Regions from separate parts of the Homo sapiens genome. Here regions 1 and 3 are each linked to region 2. The links come from fine-mapping of genetic effects on gene expression. A gene starts in region 2. Each other region holds a variant in brackets. All regions are shown on one strand. Distances are from middle to middle. Region 1 has its middle 22 kb from the start of EIF3D. Region 2 holds the start of MPST (mercaptopyruvate sulfurtransferase). Region 3 overlaps TMPRSS6 (transmembrane serine protease 6).

Region 1 (8,176 bases), 470 kb before region 2:
GGAAAGCATCAGGGGCAGTGGGGTATGTACGGGCAGGAGCTGTCAAAGGGCGTCAGTCATGTGTTTGAGGATGGGTAACAGATGCAGTAGGAAAGACAGTGGTACCAGCAGGGAGGGCCTTGAAAGCTATTCTGAGGACTGTGAATTGCATCTTGTATTTGTCAGGGAATCACCATGCTGGGAGCTCTGCTAGGAGCTCAGAGTTCCATGGAGAAGGTGGGCAAAGAGAGGCCCATCACTCATGTTTACTGAGCCTTGACTATTTCGTGGTGCTAAGCACTTCTTGGGCCTTGGTTTATTGTCTGTCTTATAAGGCAGGTACTGTGATCATCCCCATTTTATACACGAGTAAACTGAGACTTGGGATACTGACATAAGTTTTTCCCAAGGTCATAAAACTGGTACTAGTGGAGTCAGGACTTGTCTTTTTTGTTTTTTAATGGTCACCTTTACTAAAGCTGAAGTGTATGGGTTTTTCACGGATGGGGTACAAAATTCAAAAGGCTCAAAAAGTCCCAAGTGAGGTTGCTCTTCTTTTTTTTTTTTTTTGGGATGGATTCTCGCTCTGTTGCCCAGGCTGGAGTGTAGTGGGATGATCTTGGCTCACTGCAACCTCTGCCTCCTGGGTTCAAGCGATTCTCCTGTCTCAGCCTCCTGAGTAGCTGGGACTACAGGCACATGCCACCACGTCTGGCTAATTTTTTTGTATTTTTTAGCAGAGACAGGGTTTCACCATGTTGGTCAGGCTGGTCTTGAACTCCTGACCTCGTGATCTGCCCACCTTGGCCTCCCTCCCTCCCCAGAGGTGACTACTCTTACACTTTCTTGTGTTTTTTATTTTCTAGAGACTTTGCCTGTTTGTTTTGTGAGAGGTGTTTTATATAGACATAAGCACAAAAAGCAAGACAAGACAAGTGCCTGTTAACTACAAACATGGGCTTTGGGAAGAGCCAGTGTGGGTTTAGATCTTGACTTTTTCTGAGAGCCTGACAAGTGTCACCATTAAATGCTGGTTTGGACAAAGGGTGGGCGGGCTTGGAGGGTGGGATGAGGATGGCAGGGGGTAGGGACGTGGACATCAAGAGGTCTGTGTGCACAAGTGTGACTGTGTGGGCCTGGACTGGGGGTGAGGTGATCAGATGGGGACAGGAAATGGGGACTGCAGAGGCCTGGTGAGAGACAGAGCAGGGACGAGGCAGGGGAGAGCGGCTGCTGCGGGGCTGTCATAGCCGGCAGGCGTTTGGCAGGGCAGAAGGCACAGTAAGAGGAAGAGAGGCAGCCTGCGGGCTTGGCTTGGGACAGCCTCTCTAAGGCTCGTGCTGACTCTCGAGCAGTTCCAGCTCAGCAGGCCATGCACACGAACCAGGAAGCTGGGTGGACTGGGCTGGGAAGGAGGCCATGGGCTCAGGAGCCCGGGAGATCTGGTCCCAGTGCCCAGTGGGGATTCTGGGCAAGCCAATTCCTCTCCAGGCATCTGTGCGGGTCAGCGCCACACGGAAGCCCCTCGTCCCTGTTGATCTTCACTGTAGAGGGAGAGGCAGGGAAAGGCTTGGGAGATGCCGGGCTGGGATGGGCTAGGGGCTTGGAATGCCTGCCCAGAGGTTTTCAGGGCGGCATCTCAGCAAGTGTCCACAGTGTGCAGAGCTCTCCCAGGCAGGATGGGCACCTATACATGCATGCATATGTGTACTTTACATGTTATATGTAATACAATGTAATACATGTTATTTTGCTCGGTTCCCACTTCCCCTTTTAGAAGCCAGTTGATATATAATGAGTTGGTGTCCTCCCATTCTTTTTGATGCATTGAGGATCCTAAGTCTGTGCCCCAGTCCCCATAGTCTGTTCACTTCCTGGCTTCCTGGAAGAACAAAATGTCCCCGCCTCCTCTCGTTCTTTCCCTGCCCCACTCCTAGAATCAGCTGTTTTTCTAAGGAGCCCAGGTTTTCTTCCCTGAGAAATGCTATTTGGGTGGGGGAGAGGGAGGGAAGCAACAAGCTGTGGGGGAAGAGCCTCGATCTGGGCAACCCCTTTGCTCTTGTGACCTCGAGCAAGTCCCTCGGGGCATTAGGGGACCAGTTATGTCCTTTCTAGACTCACCTGAGGCCAAGAAGATGTGGGAAACATCCATCCTGTGTGCCTGCGGTCTGGAAAGGCACAGCCCCAGCTCTGCCCCTGTGTGGCTGTGTGATTCTGGGTTTCTTAACCTCTCTGAGCCTCAGAGTCCCCATCTGTGAGATAGGAATAACATGAGGCTTTTTTTTTTTTTTTTTTTTTTTTTTAAGACAGGGTCTTACTCTCTTGCCCAGGCTGAAGTGCAATGACATGATCATAGCTCATTGCAACCTTGAACTCCTGGGTTCAAGTGATCCTCCCGACTCAGCCTCTCAAAGTGCTAGGATTACAGGCATGAGCCACTGCATCTGGCACGTGGACATTTCTGACTTATCTCAACTAGGGAAGGTACTCAATAAATGCTAATTCCCTTCTTCCTCCCCTTAATTATTTGACTTCAGTACCCCAGGAAATGAGGACTGGGATATTGGATGGTTTGGGAGAGGAGGAAAGAGGTGTCCAGGGAAAAGGAAGAAATTGGGAAATAGAAGACCACGGACAAATAAAAGAGGAGGGGTTAATTCAGAATAGGGAAGACGGGCCAGGCGCAGGGGCTCACACCTGTAATCCCAGCACTTTGGGAAGCCGAGACAGGCGGATCACGAGGTCAGGAGTTCGAGACCAGCCTTGCCAATATGGTGAAACCCCGTCTCTACTAAAAATACAAAAATTACCTGGGCGTGGTGGCACTCAACTGTAGTCCCAGCTGCTCAGGAGGCTGAGGCAGAAGAATCGCTTGAACCTGGGAGGCGGAGGTTGCAGTGAGCTGAGATCGTGTCACTGCACTCCAGCCTGGGCAACAGAGCAAGACTCCATCTCAAAAATAAAAAAAAAGAAAAGAAAAGAATAGAGAAGATGATTTTAATCATCAGAGCTTTCCAATAAAGGCAGGCTCTGGCTGCTTGGGGGAGGTTGAGAGCCTCCTGTCATTAGAGGTATGCAAGTAGAGGCTGAGGGATTGTGAGCCACACAGATGTGTTTGTGAGGACTCGCAATGGCCAGGAGGTAGATTCCTTCACTCAGCAAACTTTGGGAGAGGGCTGTCCTTGCCTGGTCCTGTAATGGGGCAGGGAAGCCAAGGTGAATAGGACACCATCCCTGGCCCCAGGGAGCGCCCAGCCCAGGAAATAAGCAAATCGCTGAGATCCTTTTACTCTGCAGTTCTGTGCTTTGAAGCATCCAAGCCTTGGAGGGAGTTGGCTGGGGATTTTCAGTGTGCGCCTTTTGGTATTGATCCACTGAAGTTGGAGCTGGCTGGGGAATGGCAGGAGGACGCCGCAGTGTTATTAGTGCGGAGGACACGCTGTAATCTGTCAGTGTCACCCCGGTTGCAGCTGGCCAGGAACCATCCTGCTGTTAACGCCTCCCTTCCCAGCAGCCATGGAGCACACAACTTGTACAGCACCTGCCAGTGCCTCCACCTCTCCTTGTAGGAGGGAGAGTGTGGATATTTATTCTTTTTCTGCATCTCCCTAGCATGAGTCCTCGTCTCCAATCACACTAATTTATTCAGTGTTTTCCAACACACCTTGGGCATTCCTACCTCTGTACCTTCAGTTACCAGAATTCCCTACCAGCGGTGGTCACTCCTGTCCATTCATCCATCCACCTGTCCATCCATCCAATCATCCATCCATCCACCCACCTATCCATTCAATCATCCATCCATTCATCCGTCATCCATCCATCCCCCCATTCATCCATTCAATCATCCATCCATCCATTCATCCATCCACCCACCCACCTTCCATCCATTCAACTTTGCAATCCGCTTCAGTTCAATTCAATTCAATTCACCTTTATTCAACTCATAAGGTTACTGGGCTTTGCCATGTACCACACACATGTGATAAGTGAGGCATGCCTCTGCCCTCAAGGAGCCCATGGGAAGAATCCTCCCCATTCTCCATGGCCAGCTTTGCATCTCACCTCTGTTAATCCTTTGCCATGCCCTTCAGCAGAAGCAACGGACTCTGAAGGGCTGTCCTGTGAGGAGAGTTCAGTTCTGGCTTTCATGAATTGCAGAGGACAGAGCTCAGACAAGGAGAGAGGCAAAGGGTGGGGAGGAGGTGAGAGTGAGATGAGCTAGTGGGACGGGGATTTTGGCTTTGTGGAGGGAGCTGCTTCCAGTTAGCTGTGAGTACTCAGCAGTGTATTGGGGGATGAAGGGAAAGAGAAGGGGGCAAGGAAACCACTATTGGAGAAGTGGGTTAGTGTGGCGGTGAGGAGGTGAGCTCTGCAGCCAATGGACTACCTGGCTTATTGTCTCAGCTCCACCATATTCCTGCTGTGTGAACCTGGGCACATATCTTAACATCTCTGAGCCTCCATGTCCTCATTTGTAAAATGAGGATAATAAGACCTATCTCACAATGTTG[C/T]CTTTAGCATTAACACATGCAGTGCTTAAATTAATGCGTGGCACAAAGGGAGAGCTTAATAGATTCCAGCTTTGGTTGTGACTACTCCTATTACGTACCAGCTACTATGCCAGGAGCTTTCATTCCAGTGTGTCCTCTGAGCTAACCCTATGCGGGGATTATTGAACCCATTTTGCAGATGAGGAAATGAAGACCGACGGAAGCTATCTCTTGAGCTCGTCATGCAGCTGGCGAAGGGTGGAGCAGGGCTTCAAATGCAGACCTTTCCAACTCCATTGTCCCTGCTCTCCTGCGTGCCCTTTCCTGCCTTTTCTCAAGGGGTGAGTGCTCTGAGATGCAAAGATTGGAAGACTTCCATCCCAGCTTCTGCCTAGGGCACTCTTTTGGCCTTCTCTAGTTGTAGCCCTGAATTGTTAATTACTGTTTCATGTATGTTTTCTCTGCTCCCCAGAGACCATGAGATCAAGAAAAAAGATTTTCTTCTCCACGGCAACTGAAGTGTTGACTTTGACAGTGAAAGCTACAGAGTGTATGATGTTTCCCTTTTTGCCTTGCTTGCCAGGAAGCTTGTGCTTTTTGTCAAACTGCTTACTTCCCCTTTCCATGGTTTTGGTCTTCTACCTTTGACAGACTTTTATTCATAAGTCTTACTGTAAGCTGTTCTACTCATAGAATAAGCTGAATAAATAGAAATTGAATTGAATGGAAAAGGATGGGTTACAAATTACAAGTAAATAATTCATTTTATATTTAATTTAATTTATTTATTTACTTTTGAGATGGAATACTGCTGTCACCCAGGCTGGAGTGCAATGTCGTGATCTCACTGCAACCTGCGCCTCCTGAGTTTAAGTGATTCTCCCGCCTCAGCCTCCCAAGTAGCTGGGATTACAGGTGCCCATGCCTGGCTAATTTTTGTATTTTTAGTAGAGATGGGGTTTCACCATGTTGGCCAGGCTGGTCTCGAACTCCTGACCTCAGGTGATCCATCCGCCTTGGCCTCCCGAGTGCTGGGATTACAGATGTGAGCCACTGTGCCCGGCCTGCAAGTAAATAATTCAAATAAAATCACGAGCTTCAGGAAAGAAAAATGCCTTTCTTATATCGGGCCATTGCCACAGTGTTTAGCCCTGAGCCCTGGTTCTGGCTGGGTGAAGTTTGCATGGAAAGCCCAGTGGTGATTTTCCCTGTTGTGTCTGGATCAGTGGCTCTCCTTGCACCTAGAATATAACTCAAAGGCCTTCCCTTTGGATTAGAGCAGCAGTCCCCGACCTTTTTGGCACCAGGGATCAGTTTCATGGAAGACAATTTTTCCACATACTGGGTGGGAAACTGTTTCTCCTCACATCATCAGGCATTAGTTAGAGTCTCATAAGGAACAGGCAACCTAGATCTCTCTCATGCACAGTTCACAGTAGGACTCATCCTCCTGTGAGTATCTAATGCTGCCGCTGATGTGACAGGAGGTGGAGCTCAGGTGGTAATTCTCCATCACCCGCTGCTCACCTCCTGCTGTGTGGCCCTGGTCCAAGGCCCAGGGATTGGGGACCCCGGGATTAGAGGACTGACCCCTGCCCACCTCTTCCACCTTATCCTGTGTAACTTGTCCCCTTGCTCACCCAGGATAACTACTGGAGTCATCTTTGAGATGTTCTCACAAGCCAGGTTCTTTCCCTGCTTCAGAAAAGAGGCTTTGTGGCTGGGCGTGGTGGCTCACACCTGTAATCCCAGCACTTTGGGAGGCCGAGGCAGGCGAACCACCTGAGGTCAGGAGTTCGAGACCAGCCTGACCAACATAGAGAAACCCGGTCTTTACTAAAAATACAAAATTAGCTGGGAGTAGTGGCACAAGCCTGTAATACCAGCTACTCGGGGAGGCTGAGGCAGGAGAATCACTTGAACCCGGGAGGCAGAGGTGGTGGTGAGCTGAGATCATGCCATTGCTCTCCAGCCTGGGCAACAAGAGCAAAAACTACGTCTCAAAAAAAAAAAAAAAAAAGAAAAAGAGGCTTTGCATGTGCCGTTCCCTCTGCCTGGAGCCCTCTGCTCTCTCCCATCCCCTGCTTCTGCCTGGCTCATCATTCCTACGCTTCAAATTTCTGCTGAAAGTCAGCATCTTAGGGAGGCCTCCCCTGACTGCTCTGTTTAAAGGGGTTGTGGTAGCTGGTCTGCAAAGACAACTCCCAGTGCTTCCTGGCCTCTCCTGTGTATGCTGCTGTTCCCATCAAGAAACAGACTCTATTTCTCCTCCTCCTGGAAGTGGGCCGGGCGTTGGGCCTGGCTTTGGCCAATGGAATGTGGCAGAGGTAATTTACTGAGGCTTCCGAGGTGAGGCCTTCAGATGACTGGCAGCTTCTCCTTCCTGCCACCTGGAACCCAGCTGGTATGCTGTGGGAAGCCCATATCACATAGAGAGACACAGCGGGAGAAATGGGGTGTTCAGCTCAACAGCCCAGTTGAACCCCCAGCCAACAGTCAGCATGGATTCCAGCCATGTGCGTGAGCCAGCCTGGGTGCTGCAGCCCAGGTGAGCCCCTGAATGACTGCAGGCCCAGCTAACATCATACGGAACAGAAGAACCACCCAACTGAGCCCACAGAACTGTGGGAGATAATAAAATGGTATTGCTGTTTTAAGCCACTGAATTTCCAGTCATCTAAAGAGAGGTTAATCCCTGATAAATTTCTCTCTTTCTCTCTCTCTCTCTTTTTTTTTTTTTTTAGAGAGACAAGTTCTCACTACGTTGCCCAGACTGGAGTGCAGTGACTGTTCACAAGTGCAATCATAGTGCACTGCAGCCTCGAACTCCTAGTCTCAAGCATCCCTCCTGCCTCAGCCTCCTGGGTAGCTGATATTCTAAAAATCATTGCCCCAATGCACTTACTTCATAGCATTCACAATAATCTATAATTATATAATTATTTGATTCTTAACTTGCTAATTTTCCCTTTTTTCTTTTTCTTTTTCTTTTCTTTTCTTTTTTTTTTTTTTTGAGACAGTCTCGCTCTGTTGCCCAGGCTGGAGTGCAGTGGCATGGTCTTGGCTCACTGCAATCTCCACCTCTTGCATTCAAGCAATTTTCCTGCCTCAGCCTCCCGAGTAGCTGGGATTACAGGCATGCGCCATCATGCCCGGCTAATTTTTTGTATTTTTAGTAGAGATGGGGTTTCACCACGTTGGCCAGGCTGGTTTCAAACTCCTGACTTCATGATACATCTGCCTCAGCCTCCCAAAGTACTGGAATTACAGGCGTGAGCCACCGCACCTGGCCAATTTTCCCTTTCTTCCTATAGCACATGAGTTACAGAAGGCTGGGACCATGTTTGTCTTGATTGCAGCTATCCCCAGCATTAAGCACAGTGAATGGCATGTGGTGGGAGCTGAAAGAATGAAAGAATGAATGAATGAATGAATGAATGAATGCAAGGCATCGGAGTGGTCTTGAAGTGTTCCTAAGAGCCAGTGTAAGTCTCTGTGGCTGCAGCCCAGGCTGATATAGCACCAGAAAGGAGATGGGTATGGCCTAAGTCTCAGTTCTCTGGGGCTTTCACGACTCAGAACTGTACAACACTCCCTGACACCACCTCTATAACCCAGATCTCCACACCCCTGCCAGGAAGAATCACCCTTTTCCTTCTCCTTGCCCTTCTGTATCCTGCACAGCTCTCCATTAGGGGACCCGA
Region 2 (8,165 bases):
CTGGTCTCGAACTCCCGAGCTCATGATCCGCCCACCTTGGTCTCCCAAGGTGCTGGGATTACAGGCGTGAGCCACCACGCCCGGCCGCCACTGCTACATTTAAACAAATGCATACTCATGTGGGTAGGGCTGGCGTGACTCTTCTCATTTTATGATAAGGAAACCCAGAGAGGCCAAGCAACTGGACTGAGGTCACTCCAAGGAGGAGTGGCTGAGCTGAAATGAGAATCCATGTTCCCTGATGCTCCTGAGGGAAACTGAAGGAGGTGTGAACACAATTACAGAGGAGGAACTTCAGCATCCCGGGCCTTCAGGAGGCATTACCCACTGCAGGCCATTCTCCTCCTCTGAGCCTCAGTTTCCTCATCTGTAAAATGGGTGAGGACATTGGGCCTGGCACCTCCAAGCTGTCCCTTCCACTTATTTCTTAGGTTGCTTCAGGGCAGGCTGGGAAGCAGCAAGAGAACCAATTCCACTGATCCTCCCCCATGACAGCTTAAATCCCAAGGAGAAGAGGCGTCTTGAACCAAGGCCAGGAGAGGGCTGCAGGCGTTCCCAGCCAGGATTCTCTGGGAGGTGCCAAATGAACTTGAATCTTCAACTCCAGACCTTCAGAGAGCAAGCAGGCAAGAAAAATATGGGGCCTGGAAAAAGCTGCGCTGGAAAGGGCAGAGACCCTGCTGTCCTGGCTCTGTCACTAACTAGCTATGCGGCCTTGGCCCCTGCCTCTGTGCACCTCAGTCTCCCCTCTGTCAGGTGAGGTCACCGTTCAGGCCCTCCAGCTCTAAGAGTGTGCAGAACAGTTTTCCCAGCATTCTCTCTGTAGGAGGTACAGACAGGAAGAGATGTTTTTCAACAAGTCAGGCAAAATGTTGCACACGAGTTAGATTCTGTAGAGAAGGAGCTCTGACTGAGGAAAGAGCCACCAAGGAGGTGCCCAGAGACAAGAGAGGGCCCTGCTCCTGGAAATGGCCAGGCAGGGACTGGAGGGCACTCAGCAGGAGTGATGGCAGCGAGACGGCAGTCCTGCCTCTAGAAAAGGGAAGACCTCCGAGGTTCTGTCTGGCTAGGAGGTTCTAGAACTCAGCATTTCCTCTCCTGAGGCTCTCCCCAACCCTCAAGCAGTATCCAATCCACCTGGCCTTCCCTTCCACAGGAGGGGAACTTCTGAGTCGCCTTCCTGGGGCAACTAGCAGAGGGGACTCCCTCCTGGCCCTGGGAAGTAGGGGTAGGGCAGCATTGGGTGCGTCCTGGTTTATAGCCCTGGTTTGAAACAAGGCAGCATTGGATTCGAATCCTGCCTTCCACCACTTTATGTCCTGGCATCTCAGTCCCCCCACCCCCCGCTGCCAAAACAGGGGCATTGAGCTTTGTTCGCTGAGATAATGCGGTGCCAAGTGTCTGGCATGAAATGGCAGCTGCTGTTACAACTCTGCCGACGGGCTGCAGCTGCCTGGAAAGGTTATGGAACCTTTGCAAACAGCAGGCAGGGGCCCCAGGAGAGCTAGATTTGGGGAGAGGGGGATCCTGCGGGGAGGGACACTGTTGATGTCTATAAGGGTTTCTGCGGGACGAGAGAGGCCTGGAGAAGCTGGATGTGTCCGTGGGAGGTTTCTGTACAGCAATGCAAACGCTGGCTCAGGGGCATGACACCCTTAGGTATATCCTAGTACATGTGGGGCAGCTGGTGCCTGGGAGTGGAGGTGGTGGACATGTCACCAGTGACTTCTGCTCACACAGATGCTAGGTGGCTTCTTAGCACATGGCTATGAGGACACATTCTTGGGTCCTTGTGCATCCAAGCTGAAAAAGCCTTTAGGTTTGTCTCCACTTTCTGGTTTTATCGATGGAAAGACTGAGGCCTACATGGGAGGATTGAAGGCATGGGACGGACCCTGGAGAGGGTCCCAGTCATCCTTACTCCCTATCCTTCCATGGGGCAATACTCCCCAGGGACCACCCAGCACTGGGACACCTACCTACTGCATCCGGCTCCGGCTCGGTGCCCAGGAACCGCCCTTGAGACCTTGAATCCACCAGCTGGAACCTCTTAGATTCAAGGTTCTCCAGCACCTGCTCGTAGGTCTTGAGCAGGGAGCGGTCCAGTGTGGCTTTGAAGACGGCCGGTTCTGGGCGTGAGGGCTCGGATGTCACCGGGTGGCCCTCCTTCAGCCAGTTCCGGAAGCCACCATTGAGCACTGATACGGTGCGGTGGCCAAACACACGGAACATCCACCAGACCCGGGGAGCATAGAAGCTGCCCAGGTGTTCACCATCATACACCACCACGTGCGTGTGGTTGCTGATGCCCAGGCGGCCCACATACTCGGCGAAGCCAGCCTCGCTGGGCAGCATCATCTCGTAGGGCGACGCCGTGTCCCGGCACTCTTCTATGTCAAAGAAAGAGGCGCCGGGTACGTGGCGCTCGAGGTACTCCTTGCGGGCCTCTCGGGTGCCTGGTGAGTACCAGGACGCGTCCAGCACCCGCAGGCCGGGCCCCAGCTTGCCAGTCCTGATGGACTCCGCCAGCCACTTGGTGGAGACCAGCGCCCGGTAGAGCACCTGATGAACCATGGCTTCAGCTCTGCGTGTCACCTGGCACGGGTGGGAACCAGGAAAGAGAGACAGGCGTGAGGAAGGAAGTCGGTGTGTGCAGTAGGGTGAGGCCTGGGAGAAGCTCTTTCTCCCTCCGCACTCCCCCGGGTTCCTTGTTTACAGCAAGCCAGCGAGGCTGGGGCGTGCAGCGGGATAAGTTTGCAGATTCCCTCTGGAAAGCCGGCCCCGCCCCTCCCAGCCGGCCCGGGGGCCCAGCGCAGAAGCGGGTGGGGCAAGAGTTTCCGAGGACTCCAAGTAGGGGCGCTTCCTGGGGCGGGGATCTGGCTCCTAGAAGTTACAGTACTCGATCCCGCCAGGAAAGAGCAATGAAAGCATGCCCGGGATGGGGGGCGATGGCATCTTGGGCTTAGAATCCCCTTTCCTTCCAAGGCAGAGGGGGTGGGCGCACGGCTAGGAAGCTCCGCGAGCCGCGCACACGCCATCGCCTGCGGCCTCCCCAGGCAGCCCGAGCTCGCCCGCCTCCAGAGTGCCCGAGTCCGGCCCGTAGCTCGCTGCCCTCTGCCCTAGGTGGATCAGGGGTTCCCGGGGCACCCCGTCCCACTCTCGCAACGCTATCCTTCCCCGGGCAGCAGGTGGCCCGACCGGCGGCCCAGGCGCCCGGCCGCTGCCCCCGCCCCGCACTCACTCGCCCCGGACGCCGCGCTGGCGCTCGCCCCGGCCGGCTGGAGAAGTTGGCCGGTTCAAACCCCCGGCCGCAGCTCCCCAGGCGGCGCGCACCATCGCGCCACCGCCAGAGGGGGACCCTGCGCCGCCCGCCGCCATCCCGCGCCTCCCCCGCGCGGCCGCTTCGCGCCCGGCACCTGCCAACCTCGCGCGCGGGGCCTCCGGGACCCGCGGGGGTCTGAGGGGGACGCCGGGTGGCGCGGGGGCCGCGCGGGCCTGGGCTGGGCGGAGCGGGCGTACCCCCACGGCCCGGCCAGTGGAAGGCGCGGGCAGCAGCGGCTCCGAGTGGCCGCGGCGGTGGGCTGTGCCGGAGTCTCCTCCCTTTGGTCCGCTGCAGGTTGGTGGCGGGAGGAGGGGACAGCTGCGGGCGCGGGGAGGGGGCGCCGCGCCGCGGGGGCCATGGCGGAGCCAGGAAGCCGGGAGTCCGAGACCCGGGTAACTGCCGCGGCGTGGCGGCTTGCCTTTCTGGAGGGGGAGGGAGTGGCTCTTTGGGGGTGCTCGGCGCGGGGCTCCCGCGCGGGACCTGGGCGGAAGAGGGGGCTTAGTCTAGGAGAGAAGGCGCGCCGCTACGTTGGCACTAAGGGTGACTGTCCGCTTGGGGCGGCCTGCCGGGTGGGGTCGTGGCGAGTGGCGGGTGGGGAGCCTTGGGTGGAAGTGGGTGACCTGGTGGCACCAGAGAGGGCGGGGGAGAGAGAGGAGGACAGGGAGACGAGACCCCGCTGACCCAGAGGCCCCAGGAAGAGACACTAGCCAATAACTTGTTAGTGAGTGAAAGGAACTAACATTGTCCAGCCCTGCTTGGTGTGGCACTTTGCTGGGTACTCCCGTGGTGTGACTTAATTCCCACAATAACCCTGAGGAGTAGGCCAGAAACTTACTAAGACAGGAGAGAGCGGCAGAGCGAGTTGCTGGAGGACACACCCAGAGTTGAGGCCGGGCCTGATCCCTGGTCTGAAGCCCACGTGGTACCAGCTGCCTTTGTTTACCTGGCTCTTCCCTGAAGGTTCATGCTTTTTAAAAAATTGCCTGTTTTGAACTTAGCCCGTTTAATCATAAGTTGATGTAATTCAATTTTTAATAATAGCTGTATTTAACAACCAGTTGGCAAAATTCCTGAAAAGCTCGCCATGGGCTCTTGCAAACTGGGGGACACCATTGCCCCTCCCTAGCTTTTGCAGAGGCCAGCCTGGAAGCTTTCCCTGTTTCCCAACCCTGACCTTTTGTTTTGTTTTGTTTTTTGAGACAGGCTGTGGTTCTGTGGCCCAGACTGGAGTGCAGTGGCGCCATCTCAGCTCACTGCAACCTCCGCCTCCCAGGCTCAAGCGATCCTCCCACCTTAGCCTCCCAAGTAGGTGGGACCACAGGCATGTGCCACCATTCCCGGCTAATTTTTAAATTTTTGGTAGAGATGGGGTTTCACCATGTTGTCCAGGCTGGTCTTGAACTCCTGGGCTCAAGTGATCTGCCCATCTCAGCCTCCCAAAGTGCTGAGATTACAGGCATGAGCCACCATCCCTGGCCTCATCCCTCTTTTTAAAAAAAGGTTTTGTTCTAAAATGCTCACAGCAATCCTCAAAGCCTAGTGTCTGGTGGTTGGGGGAGGGGGTGGGCAGGAGGGACCAGGCTGGGGAGGTCCAAGAGGAGCTCCCAAGCTCTGCTCCTCAAGGGGTACCCTGGATCCAGCCTGCGGCTCACGCTTGCTTCAGTGCAGCTGTGTATCCTTCTGACATGAGCCTGGGGCGGTTACGTCCTGGGGTCCTCCACTCCCAGGGCACCCTCACCTACAGTGATCCCGGCTTCTGAATCACACAGGCACCTGGTTTCTACCCCTCCCTGACACCCACAGCCTGCCTTCACACCCTCCTTTATGGCCCACAGACCTTTGTGAGAAGTGCCAATCAAGCAGGGAGACTGGGGCAGGGTGACCTCAGATCTCTGAAGTCCCACCAAGCCCTGAAATTCTAAGATTTTAGATTTGCTGCTGGCAGTTCCAGGGCCACCAATGAGAGTAATGGAAGAAATAATGCAATATTATTATTATTATTATTATTTTGAGATGGAGTCTCACTCTGTTGCCCAGGCTGGAGTGCAGTGGCGCGATCTCGGCTCACTGTAACCTCTGCCTCCCAGGTTCAAGCGATTCTCCTGCCTCAGCCTCCCGGGTAGCTGGGACTACAGGCTCATGCCACCATGCCCAGCTAATTTTTGTATTTTTAGTAGAGATGAGGTTTCACCATGTTAGTCAGGCTGGTCTTGAACTCTTGACCTCGTTATCCGCCCGCCTTGGCCTCCCGAAGTGCTGGGATTGCAGGTGTGAGCCACCACGCCCGACCTAAACCGTTTTTAATGATTATTAAAACCAGCCAGATGTAATGCATGGTGGTTGCCCCTCTACATTTATTGTTTAATCTTGGCTCTAAGAGGTGGAGGTGAGAAGCTCCATTATAAGGAACAGAAACCACCCAGAGACCCTACACACCCACATCACACAACCAGTTAAGCAGTGGAGTGGGGTTTACATTGATTTGGGGGGCTCTCTGGCTCCTAAACCAGGGCTCTTTCTACTGTAAATGGATGATTGGGTGAGGGAAACAAGGATCCTCAAGAATAGGGGACAGTGTTTGGGGGTGCACAGGGGCTGCTGTGGTTCCCACAATAGGGTTCCTCAGGAAGGAACCTGCAGCATCTGCCAGCACAGCGCCCCCTAGCTGTGCTGTAACGCAGATAATGGGGATCACCCCTTAGCCAAACACCCCTTGGCAGCCTCCCTACCCTAAAGACCGTGCTGAGGCTTCCTGGGCCCCTGGAAAAGTCAGATTAGTCTGGACTTCCTCCTACTCCAGGAAGCCTTCCCACCTCTTCTGCTGCCACCCCAGGCAAACATAGGGGCCCTCTGTGCTCAACACTGAATTCTAAACTATCCTCAATTTCACTCTCTCTTGCCTGCAGCCTGACGTTTCCCCCCAGGGCTTGGCAAAGGCAAGAGTGCCTCGGTGTCCGGCACAAGGCCTGACCGCATGGGTGAAGTAGGTTCCTAAAAGCCAGCTGCGGCCAGACTGTGGGGGTGGGCACAGGGTGTCACCCTAGAACTCATTAGGCCCTGGTCATCATGGCACCTGGGGCAGGGGAAGTCCAGCCTGAGGGGTCAAATTCTGGCTGCAAATCCTGAGGCTGCCTCCTGTGACCACGGGCAAGGCACTTATTCTTCTAATTGCCAGTGGCCTCATTCATAAAGCAGGCGTCCTAATACCCGCCCAAGGCTGCGGTGCCTAGCATGTGACCTGGCCCACAGAGGCACTCGGTCCACAGATGTTGTTCTCTACCTGCCCCCTTCATTTCGCTGGCAGGACTGCATGCAGTGGGTGTCAAGGTTGGGCCTCACACAGGGGATAAGTGAGGGCTGATCTGCAGCCCATACTCCACACACCCAGCCATGTGCCCTGGTGGGGGCTCAGCCTCTGCCTGGCAGAAGGGGCCCTTTCCTCTCACCTGCACAACGGTGGCTTCCCAGCACAAAGGGCTTAAAGTGTTTGGGAAGTTTACACCCAGGAAGGCTGTGGGCTGGCCTGGCATAGTGGGCTGGCGAGCTGGTGCACTGTCTCTGGTATGCAGGAAAGATAGAGAGGAGAGGGAGGGAGGTGCGAAGTCACTGTTGCTGCTGCTAGAAGGGCCAGAGAGAGCCCAGGCTGGACAGGCAAAACCTGGCCTCGCCAGACTCCTGGAGCCTGCACAGAGTGTGTGTCTGAGAAGTCCGGATTCTGGTGCCAGACTGACTGCCTAGTGAGAAGCCTGGCACCGCCGGGTCAGGCTAGTGCACTTTTTCTTGTTTGTTTTTTGTTTTTGAGACAGAGTTTTGCTCTTGTTCCCCAGGCTGGATTGCAATGGCACGATCTCGGCTCACTGCAACCTCCGCCTCCTGGGTTCAAGCAGTTCTCCTGCCTCAGCCTCCCGAGTAGCTGGGATTACAGGTGCCCTCCACTAAGCCCGGCTAATTTTTTGTATTTTTGGTAGAGACGGGGTTTCACCATGTTGGCCAGACTGGTTTCAAACTTCTGACCTCAGGTGATCCACCTGCCTGGGCCTCCCAAAGTGCTGGGATTACAAGCGTGAGCCACCGCACCAGGCCAGGTTAGTGCACTTCTGTGAGCCTGAGTGTCCTCCTTGAAACGGTGACAATAATATACCAGGCCTCTTAAGATCACTCATTCAACACATACTGGAGAGTCTACTGTGTCAGGCATTGTTCTAGGATATTGTTAGGATTCAGTGGTACCCAGCAAGGACTCAGTAAATTCCAGCTACTGTTCCTATTAGGTCGCCAATATAAATGCTTGATGAGTGAATGAATGACTTCCGTCTGGGACTTGGTTGCAAATAAAGCCGAGCTGCATCTTAGGGAGGGGTGGAGACTTTGCCCCTGTTTGTGCCTTGAAGCCAGCAGGGCCTTGCCCTAGGATACCTCCACCCACCCTCCTGCCCAGCAAGTGGAGGTGAGGGGCGTGGCCTGGGGCTCTCCGGGAGGTCATGGTCATTGGGTCACTCGGAGCTTGTGTTTATATGAGGCCTGGCAGAGGGAGGCCCCTGGCTACCCACCTTTGTGCCCGGGTTCACCACCACTGGTTTCTGCGTTCCCTGGACTCTGCCCTGCACGGGCCGCACCTCCCCCGCCGGCCCTCGCCCATGCTCCAGCCCCAGCCCTAGCCCCAACAGCGGCCTCTCCCTGCTTCCCTTCTGACATCCTCCCTGTCGCCCAGGCCCGCAGCCCGAGTGTCGCCGCCATGGCTTCGCCGCAGCTCTGCCGCGCGCTGGTGTCGGCGCAATGGGTGGCGGAGGCGCTGCGGGCCCCGCGCGCTGGGCAGCCTCTGCAGCTGCTGGACGCCTCCTGG
Region 3 (8,176 bases), 75 kb after region 2:
TCATCCTGCAGCTGGCCCCGCCTGAGGCTCAGACCTAGCCCATCTCACGGCTGCCTCACTTCACAACTGTTTCACCATCATACCCCACCCCCCTACCCCACACACCAGTGAGTCTCTGCTCTTCCATCTAATCCGTAAGCTCTGATGCACTGCTAGAACTTACAAAGCAGTACCACCTGCATCATTCATTCATTCATTCATTCATTCAAAACAGTGACTGTGCACCGACTGTGTGTTCGATCTAGGCACCAGGGTCTGCCAGTGAACATGTTCTCTCCCGTGGAGCATCCAGTATCTCATTTAAACCTCGCCAGAAGCCTGGTGTTCTTCCAGGAGCCAGTGGGGATTTAGGAATGAACCTGGGATGTGGGAGGCAGCCTGGTGACATGAAATTATAAAACCTGAGTTTTCAGTCTGTTTTCTCTGCTTTAAATCGTCTTCTTTGGAAGGCCACAGGCAAGCAAAAGTCCCCCTGTCAGCTTGGTCAGCCTGAGGGCAGGCCCCCCAGGCTAGTGCCATCTGCTGGGCCCCCAGGGGAGGGGGTATATGGGGAGGGAACTGGAGAGAAGGAGGGAGGGGCACTACCCTCCCCACCTAGCACCAACACTCATCAGCTGTGTGATGATGTCATTCTTGGCTCATGGGCCATACAAAATCAGGCAGCAGTGGACCAGATTCGGTGTCCAGGCTGCAGTGAGCCAGTCTCTGTCCCCAATCATTGTCTGATTAAGTCCCCCTGAGGCTCTCAGGAGTAATAACTCTGACTTACTATTGGTTGCAGATTATCAACCTCAGACTCTGTAGAGGTAGATGTTCACTACCTCTGGGTAGTTAACTGAGTCTGGGCCAGTGGCTTAGCCATTCCAAGTTCTGTCAAATGGATGTAATAATAATCCCTGTCCTATGACCTCCTCTGGGCAGTGCTGAGGACCAGGAAGGGAATGGAGGTGAATACACTTTGCTCTGATGCTGCCACCTGTGGCTCAGCCCCTTCTCCCTGACCCCTGGCCATGCTGACTGCAGTGGGGAGCTGACCTCCCCAGAGAGAGAACAACAATGTCTGCCTAGGGAAGGGACAGGGCCTCCACCAGCAGCTGGGGAAAGATGGCTGGCTCTTCCTAGGGTTTTGTGTTCTTTAAATCTTGCTCCAAGCAGATTCTTTGCTCTTGCCACTTTAATAATTACCCTTTTTTTTTTTTTTGAGACGAATTCCGTGGAGAGGTGTGTGCTAACCTCTTGTTAATCAGAAACACCTTCAGGGAGCCTGGCACCTCTCGGGGCTGGGAGGAATTAACTGAACACGCCTTGGGTGTTCCCCTCCCCCAGCCTTTGCCCCTGCCATTCCCTCTGCTCAGGGAACCCTTTCTTCTTCTCGCCCTGACAAATTCCTGCCTACCCCCATGCCTGAATTTCTTTTTCTTTTGAAAATTATTTTATTTTATTGTTGAGACAGCCTGTCACTCAGGCTGGAGCGCAGTGATGCGATCACAACAGCTCATTGCAGCCTCGACCTCCTGAGCTCGGGTGATCCTCCCACCTTAGCCCCCCACCCCCACCCCCGAGTAGCTAGGACTACAGGTGCACACCACCATGTCCAGCTAATTTTTTTTTTAATGGAATTTGCTCTTGCTGCCCAGGCTGGAGTGCAATGGTGCAATCTTGGCTCACTGCAACCTCCACCTCCTGGGTTCAAGCAATTCTCCTGCCTCAGCCTCCCAAGTAGCTGGGATTACAGGCATGGGCCACCATGACCAGCTAATTTTGTATTTTCAGTAGAGATGGGGTTTTGCCATGTTGGCCAGGCTGGCCTCGAACTCCTGACCTCAGGTGATCCGCTCAACTTGGCCTCCCAAAGTGCTGGGATTACAGGCTTGTGCCACCACGCCCGGCCCATGCCCAAATCTGATGCCCCCTCCATGAAGTCTTCCAGGATCCCCCAGTCAGGAGCAACCCCTCCCTCCTGTAGATCTGGGACTCTGTGTGAGGCTCTTGATTTGCCCCCTCTTCTGCTTTGGAACGAACAATTCCCTCTCTCCACTGCCTCTGGGGCCTCTATTCTCACACTGGCACCTGGTGTTATGAGAATCTGTTTATGTGTCTGTCTCCCTCATGGGGCTTAAAGCTCCTCCGAGGGCAGGGGTGAGGACACGGTCATCCTGGTGTCCTCAGCGCAGGAATGGGGCCTGGCATGAAGGAAGTGCTCATAAAGTCGACTTCAAGGATTTGAGTTGTTATCTCTGCCCCCTGAGACTCTGTGCTCTGGACATGCACTGAACCAGTCTCCTCATTCATGCTTTCATTCATTTGTTCAATCATTCATTCATGAAACGAACACCCACTGAGCACAGATAATTACAGAACAACTGCCAGGAACATGGGGACACAGAGGCACGAGGCAACATGAGGCTATTACATAGCACTTCTATTGCAGGAGAAAAAATAACTTTCCATAGGACCTTTTCCTTTCCTTTCTTTCTTTCTTTTTTTTTTTTTTTTTTTTTTTTTTTTGAGATGGAGTCTCACTCTGTCGCCCAGGCTGGAGTACAGTGGCACAACCTCACAATCTCAGCTCACTGCAAGCTCCATCTTCCGGGTTCAAGTGATTCTCCTGCCTCAGCCTCCTGACTGGTTAGGACTACAGGTGCGCACCACCATGCCCGGCTAATTTTTATATTTTTAGAAGAGACGGGGTTTCGCCTTCTTGGCCAGGCTGGTCTCAAACTCCTGACCTCAGGTGATCTGCCTGCCTCTGCCTCCCAAAGTGCTGGGTTACAGGCATGAGCCACCATGCCTGGCTGACTTTTATATTTTTTAATAATTGAAAAATGGCCTATGGAGCCAGGCGTGGTGGCTCACACCTGTAATCCCAGCACTTTGGGAGGTGGAGGCAGGTGGATCACCTGAGGTCAGGAGCTCGAGACCAGCCTGGCCAACACGGCAAAACCTCATCTCTTCTAAAAATATACAAATTAGCCAGGCATGGTGGCAGGCACCTGTAGTCCCAGCTACTCAGGAGGCTGAAGCAGGAGAATTGCTTGAACCTGGGAGGTGGAGGTTGCAATGAGCCAAGATCGCGGCACTGCACTCCAGCCTGGATGACAGAGTGAGACTCTGTTATATATATATATATGTCATTCTTGGCTCATGGGCTATACAAAATCAGGCAGCAATTGACCAGATTCGGTGTCCAGGCTGCAATGAGCCAGTCTCTGTCTCCAAGCATCATCTGATTAAGTCCCCCTGAGGCTCTCAGGAGTAATATCTCTGACTTACTATTGGTTGTAGATTATCAACCTCAGACTCTGTAGAGGTAGATGTTAACTTTCAGAAGACTGTAATAAGCTGTCAATGATTTTAATTCACTAGAAAAGACAACTCCAAAGGTTTGAGTTTTCTTGCCTGGTAGGACCTTAACCAGGTTTGTATCTAACTTGGTAATCTTATTCTAGCAATTCTCTTTTTCCATTAATGATTGATGATAGATAGATAGATAGATAGATAGATAGATAGATAGATAGATAGATATAAACAGACAGCTAGCTAGCTAGACAGACAGAGACAGAGAGACAGACAGATAGATAATAGACAGCTAGCTAGTTAGATAACTAGATAGACAAGCAGACAGATATCAACAGAGA[T/TGATA]GATAGATAGATAGATAGATAGATAGACAAATAGATCAGTTTCTTGCATTCTTTACCATTCTACTCGTTCCCCCATTAATCAGCCAAATAAATATTTGACACATGGTCACTCTATCTTTGTATGAGAATCATGATTTCACCTCTTTGAAAACTGTACTTTGACCTCATCACCTCCATCCAACAAAGAAGCAAGCATTTGACCAGCAGGATGGGAAGACGGGAAGGTAAGGAAAGGTATAACAAGGATTTAAACTCTGCCTCCCTCCCTGAGAAGGGGTTGAGACGCTCACCCCCACCTTGGCTCTGGGTGACAACACTAGATAGTGTGGGAGGAATCTGAGAATTTAGGGGCCATAGAGTCCAGCAGCCAGTTGGTGCACTGCACAACTCACACAAACTACAACTTGGACAGCACCTCCTGCCTTGTGCAGCGTGGTGACTGTGCTGGTCAGCTGAAAGATTGTGGGTCCGCTTGGAGAAATGCAAGGTGACTCTAGCAATACGGCACCAGGTAGGGAGGGAGGGCTGATGAGCCTGACTGGGAAGGAAAGGAAAAGAGGGAAGGAGCGTTCTTGAATGCAATGGCACCGCTACCTCCAAAAGACCAAGTTTTAAAACCAACGTGACTGACAAACCGTGAATTGGCAAGATGATTTTCTACCATCAGTGGAAACTAGCTTGTGGGCAGGTTGAAGTGAATGATAGAGGAGAGTCACGTTCGTGGACCACTAAACCTGACTCATCCTCACACCCACACAGGAACGCATGCACACCCGTCTACAAGACACACACAAATACACGCATGCACGTCGCCACCTCCTCTCCCCCTACAGGCTCCAAGACTTGCTTGGGACACATCGCTGAGTCCACCATGGCATCCCCTGGGTGACTCTTGGCCAGGGCTCCCTGCACACACAACAGAAGCCATGTGTCCCCCTGATACACAACAAAGTCAAGACAAATGCCAACTCAAAAGGAAAATGGGGAGGGGAAAAAAAAATAGCGTACCCAGCGTGGAATTCAATGCAGCTATGTCTTTCACACTGGCTTCTGATAAAAGGAAATGAACAAACAAATAAACAAGAACAAAAAAAAAAAAAAAGAAAAGAAAATACAATGAAAATAAAATTAGAGGAGACCCTTGGAGCCAGCCTTGTCTGAGATTTACCCTAAATGCCCCCATCCCACCCTTCTTTCCTGGCTCCTTGAATGCAATGGCACTGCTACCTCACCTGGGGGGCTCTCCTGGGGGGCCCACCCTGACAGCACCCCAGGCCTGGCAGGCAGCCTCCCCGGGCCACACCACAGCTTGTTTCCCCCAACCTCATGAGGCCAACCCCACGTTTCCACTCGCAGTACTGACCCAGGATCACTAGGCCCTCGGGGTCCACTTCGTACTCGGCCCTGTAGGGGACGGCAGCCGAGCTGTTGACTGTGGACAGCAGCTCCTCCACCAGCAGTGCCTGCACCACCTCGGGGCTCAGCATCAGCCGGCGGTGCTCGGGGATTTGGAGAATGAACCAGAAGAAGCAGGTGAGGGGTCCCTCCCTAAGGCAGGCAGAAGTGAGAGAGGCCAGGGAAGGATTCTGAGGTCTGGCCCCAGCTCCACCCCTGCTCATGCACATCGAGCACTTTCCGCACCTCAGCCATTGCTGTCCGTCTTCACGCAGAAGCCTCCTAGCGACCTCTGAAGGAGGCGCTCTCATAATCCTTATTTTACGAATGAGAAAACTGAGGCATGAGAGGTGAACTTGTGTCTCATAAACTATGCCGCAAGTAGCAGAACCAGATGTGGACGGGGCAGTCGGGCCCTGGAGCCAATGCTTTTAACCCCATGCCCCTCCAACATCGCCTCGCCTGATGGTGTCAGGCCCTTGATCAGCCATCACAGTCATTGTCTGGTGCAAACCTATCACACCCATGTTTCCATTCTACAGATGAGCCCAGTGAAGGGAGGGTGACATGCAGGAAGCCAAGTTCCCTCTCTATGCCTTAGTTTCCCCATTTGAAACATGAAGGCATTGCATCAGAAGCCTACAGAGGCCCCTCCCATTCTTTGAATCTCAGCTTCTTGCAGGAGCTGGTCAGGGGCAAGGACAACTCACCCAAAGGAATAGACGGAGCTGGAGTTGTAGTAAGTTCCCAGGCGGGTGCTGGTGATGAGCTCCTTGAGCTGTGAGAAGGGAAGACAACAGCCCCTGGGACCCTCTGCAGGGCAGACAGGCCCACTTCCTACCTGGAGGTGCCCTTTGCTCCTACTGGCAGCCCCGCTCCATGCATGATTCTCCAAGGTGGACAGGCTTGATCACGGTCACACAGTGCTGAGTGGCCGGGCCGGGGCATGCATGAATCTCACACCCCATCCCCTTCTTTCTGTTTCCACTACACCCGACTCTCACCTCCACCTGCACTGCTGATGACCCCTCTGCCCCTTGCCAAAAGTCACTCCTCAACTCTGAGAAACCCCACTCGGCTCCTGGGTCCCCTCTGCACCTCCTCCCATGGCCTGGGACAAGCCAGCAGCTCTGATGGGTAGTTTTTGCGCATCTCCAACTACAGCGCTGCTGGCAGGATTACAGGCTCTTAAGCATTTGCGCAGCGTGGGAATAGTGTTCGTGTTATCTCAACTTCACTGCAACCCACAACAAATCTGCAGCCGGGTCCTGTTGTTATCACCCCTACCTCATGGAGGAGGAAACGGGCAGCCTCAGGCTGGGTCCCTCAGAAGCAGACCCTCCATTGACAAGGTGGGGCAAGTGGTTTATTTGGAGGTGATTCTGGGAAACAGTAGTTGGGAGGGAGAGACTGGAAAGTGGGCAACCAACACAGGGCCATGAATGCGCAGTGTAGAGCTGAGAGCATCTGAGCTCAGCCGAATAGGGCATCTCTGGGAGACAGCCTGGAACATTCTGTGAACTATTCCCCCTGCCAGGGCCAAAGAAGCTGCGGTATTGATCCACCCACTCCAGCGCTCATGGTTCAGGGTTGCTCCTGGGAATAACTCCCCGGCACTTCTGGCCTGCCTTGCTGGGCAGTGGTCCTGCAGCCTGAGAGTGGCAGGCAGTAGACCAGCCTCCGTGCAGTGAGCCACCATCCTGTAACAGAGGGGCAGGAGTGGCCACCGTCCTGTAACGGAGGGGCAGGAGCGGGCCACCGTCTTGTAACAGAGGGGCAGGAGCGGGCCACCGTCCTGTAACGGAGGGGCAGGAGCGGCCACTGTCCTGTAACGGAGGGGCAGGAGTGGGCCACCGTCCTGTAACGGAGGGGCAGGAGCGGCCACCGTCCTGTAACGGAGGGGGAAGAGCGGGCCACCGTCCTGTAACGGAGGGGGAGGAGAGGGCCACCGTCCTGTTACGGAGGGGGAGGAGAGGGCCACCGTCCTGTAACGGAGGGGGAGGAGAGGGCCACCGTCCTGTAACGGAGGGGGAGGAGCGGGCCACCGTCCTGTAACGGAGGGGCAGGAGCGGCCACCGTCCTGTAACGGAGGGGCAGGAGCGGCCACCGTCCTGTAACGGAGGGGGAGGAGCGGGCCACCGTCCTGTAACGGAGGGGGAGGAGCGGGCCACCGTCCTGTAACGGAGGGGCAGGAGCGGGCCCTCAATAGTGTCAGCTGCACTGTGGGACCTTTCCCAAGGTCATGCTCCACCCCTGGTAAGAGGCATGATCAGGATCTAATCCGAGTGCTATTGACCCAAACATCCACTAACTTTCCCATGACCCTCAACCTCATCTGCTTCCATGGTGCCTGGAGCAGGGCTGTGGTCCCTGTGAATGCTCCAGATGGGTTGACCAACTGGCTCCATGTGATCAGACCCCACCCCTCTCTTTTCACCCCCATATTCCCTCCCTCTCATCCCCCAGATCCTTTCCTACCATCTTCTGGGCTTTGGCGGTTTCACTGCGGAAGGCACTAGATTCCCGGCGGGTAAGATCCTGGGAGAAGTGGCGATTGAGTACACGCAGACTGCCTGAGTACACCTGGCTGACCATCACCTCCGCCTTGTACCCTGCCCAGGAAGGAACCAGCAGGGTTAGTGGAGGAAGCAGGTGGGAAAGTCTCCTGTCTCTTCCATGCCTTCTCCTGCCACCCACACCCTCAGCTCAGCCTCAGTGTCTTGGGTCTCCATGGCACCATCAATGTCATCATCATCATCTTTGTCACTCCCATTGTCATCATGGTCATCTAAAGTTTATTGGATGACAAACTGGCTGCAAGGTACCAGGGAGGTGAAAGGCTCCCAGATGGATGGTGTCCTACAGGTTCCCAGGGAGAGGCTGACACAGTGACCAGTCCAGGACACCAATGACATGAAGGCCAGGAAATCCACATAGGCCCAGGAGGCCAAGGTCATGGGTCAGCACCACTAGGCATCCTTCCACTCGTGAGGTCACCCAGGGATCCCACAGTGTGTGCTAACCACCTACTACATGGGGTACGCCAGTTAACCAAGACAGATGTGCCTCCCCTTGTGAAGCTGACAGTGGTGGGTAAGAAAGGCGTGGCTCTGGCAACCACACAGCATGTGGCATCTGTCTGT

What was found.
Region 1: its variant is fine-mapped to the expression of MPST in spinal cord (GTEx, PIP above 0.99).
Region 3: its variant is fine-mapped to the expression of MPST in whole blood (INTERVAL, PIP above 0.99).

The regions. Positions count from the first base shown.
Region 1 is chr22:36,547,495-36,555,670 of GRCh38, forward strand. No RefSeq gene overlaps it. Among named protein-coding and RNA genes, the nearest start is that of EIF3D, 22 kb to the left of the region's middle. The variant C/T (reference allele first, on the strand shown) is at 4,494.
Region 2 is chr22:37,016,159-37,024,323 of GRCh38, forward strand. MPST (mercaptopyruvate sulfurtransferase) reads left to right here and starts at 3,584. Exons shown (of 3, transcript NM_021126.8): 1 at 3,584-3,714; 2 at 8,034-8,165. The coding sequence starts at 3,679. It overlaps TST (thiosulfate sulfurtransferase), which reads right to left and starts at 3,289. Exons shown (of 3, transcript NM_003312.6): 1 at 3,242-3,289; 2 at 1,980-2,595. The coding sequence starts at 2,574. RefSeq lists enhancers at 1,832-2,807, 2,836-3,337 and silencers at 2,811-2,870, 3,031-3,420, 3,451-3,570, 3,581-3,900.
Region 3 is chr22:37,090,905-37,099,080 of GRCh38, forward strand. TMPRSS6 (transmembrane serine protease 6) reads right to left here. Exons shown (of 18, transcript NM_001374504.1): 3 at 7,512-7,645; 4 at 5,744-5,811; 5 at 5,002-5,186; 6 at 4,647-4,688. Among named protein-coding and RNA genes, the nearest start is that of TMPRSS6, 15 kb to the right of the region's middle. RefSeq lists an enhancer at 7,067-7,572. The variant T/TGATA (reference allele first, on the strand shown) is at 3,639.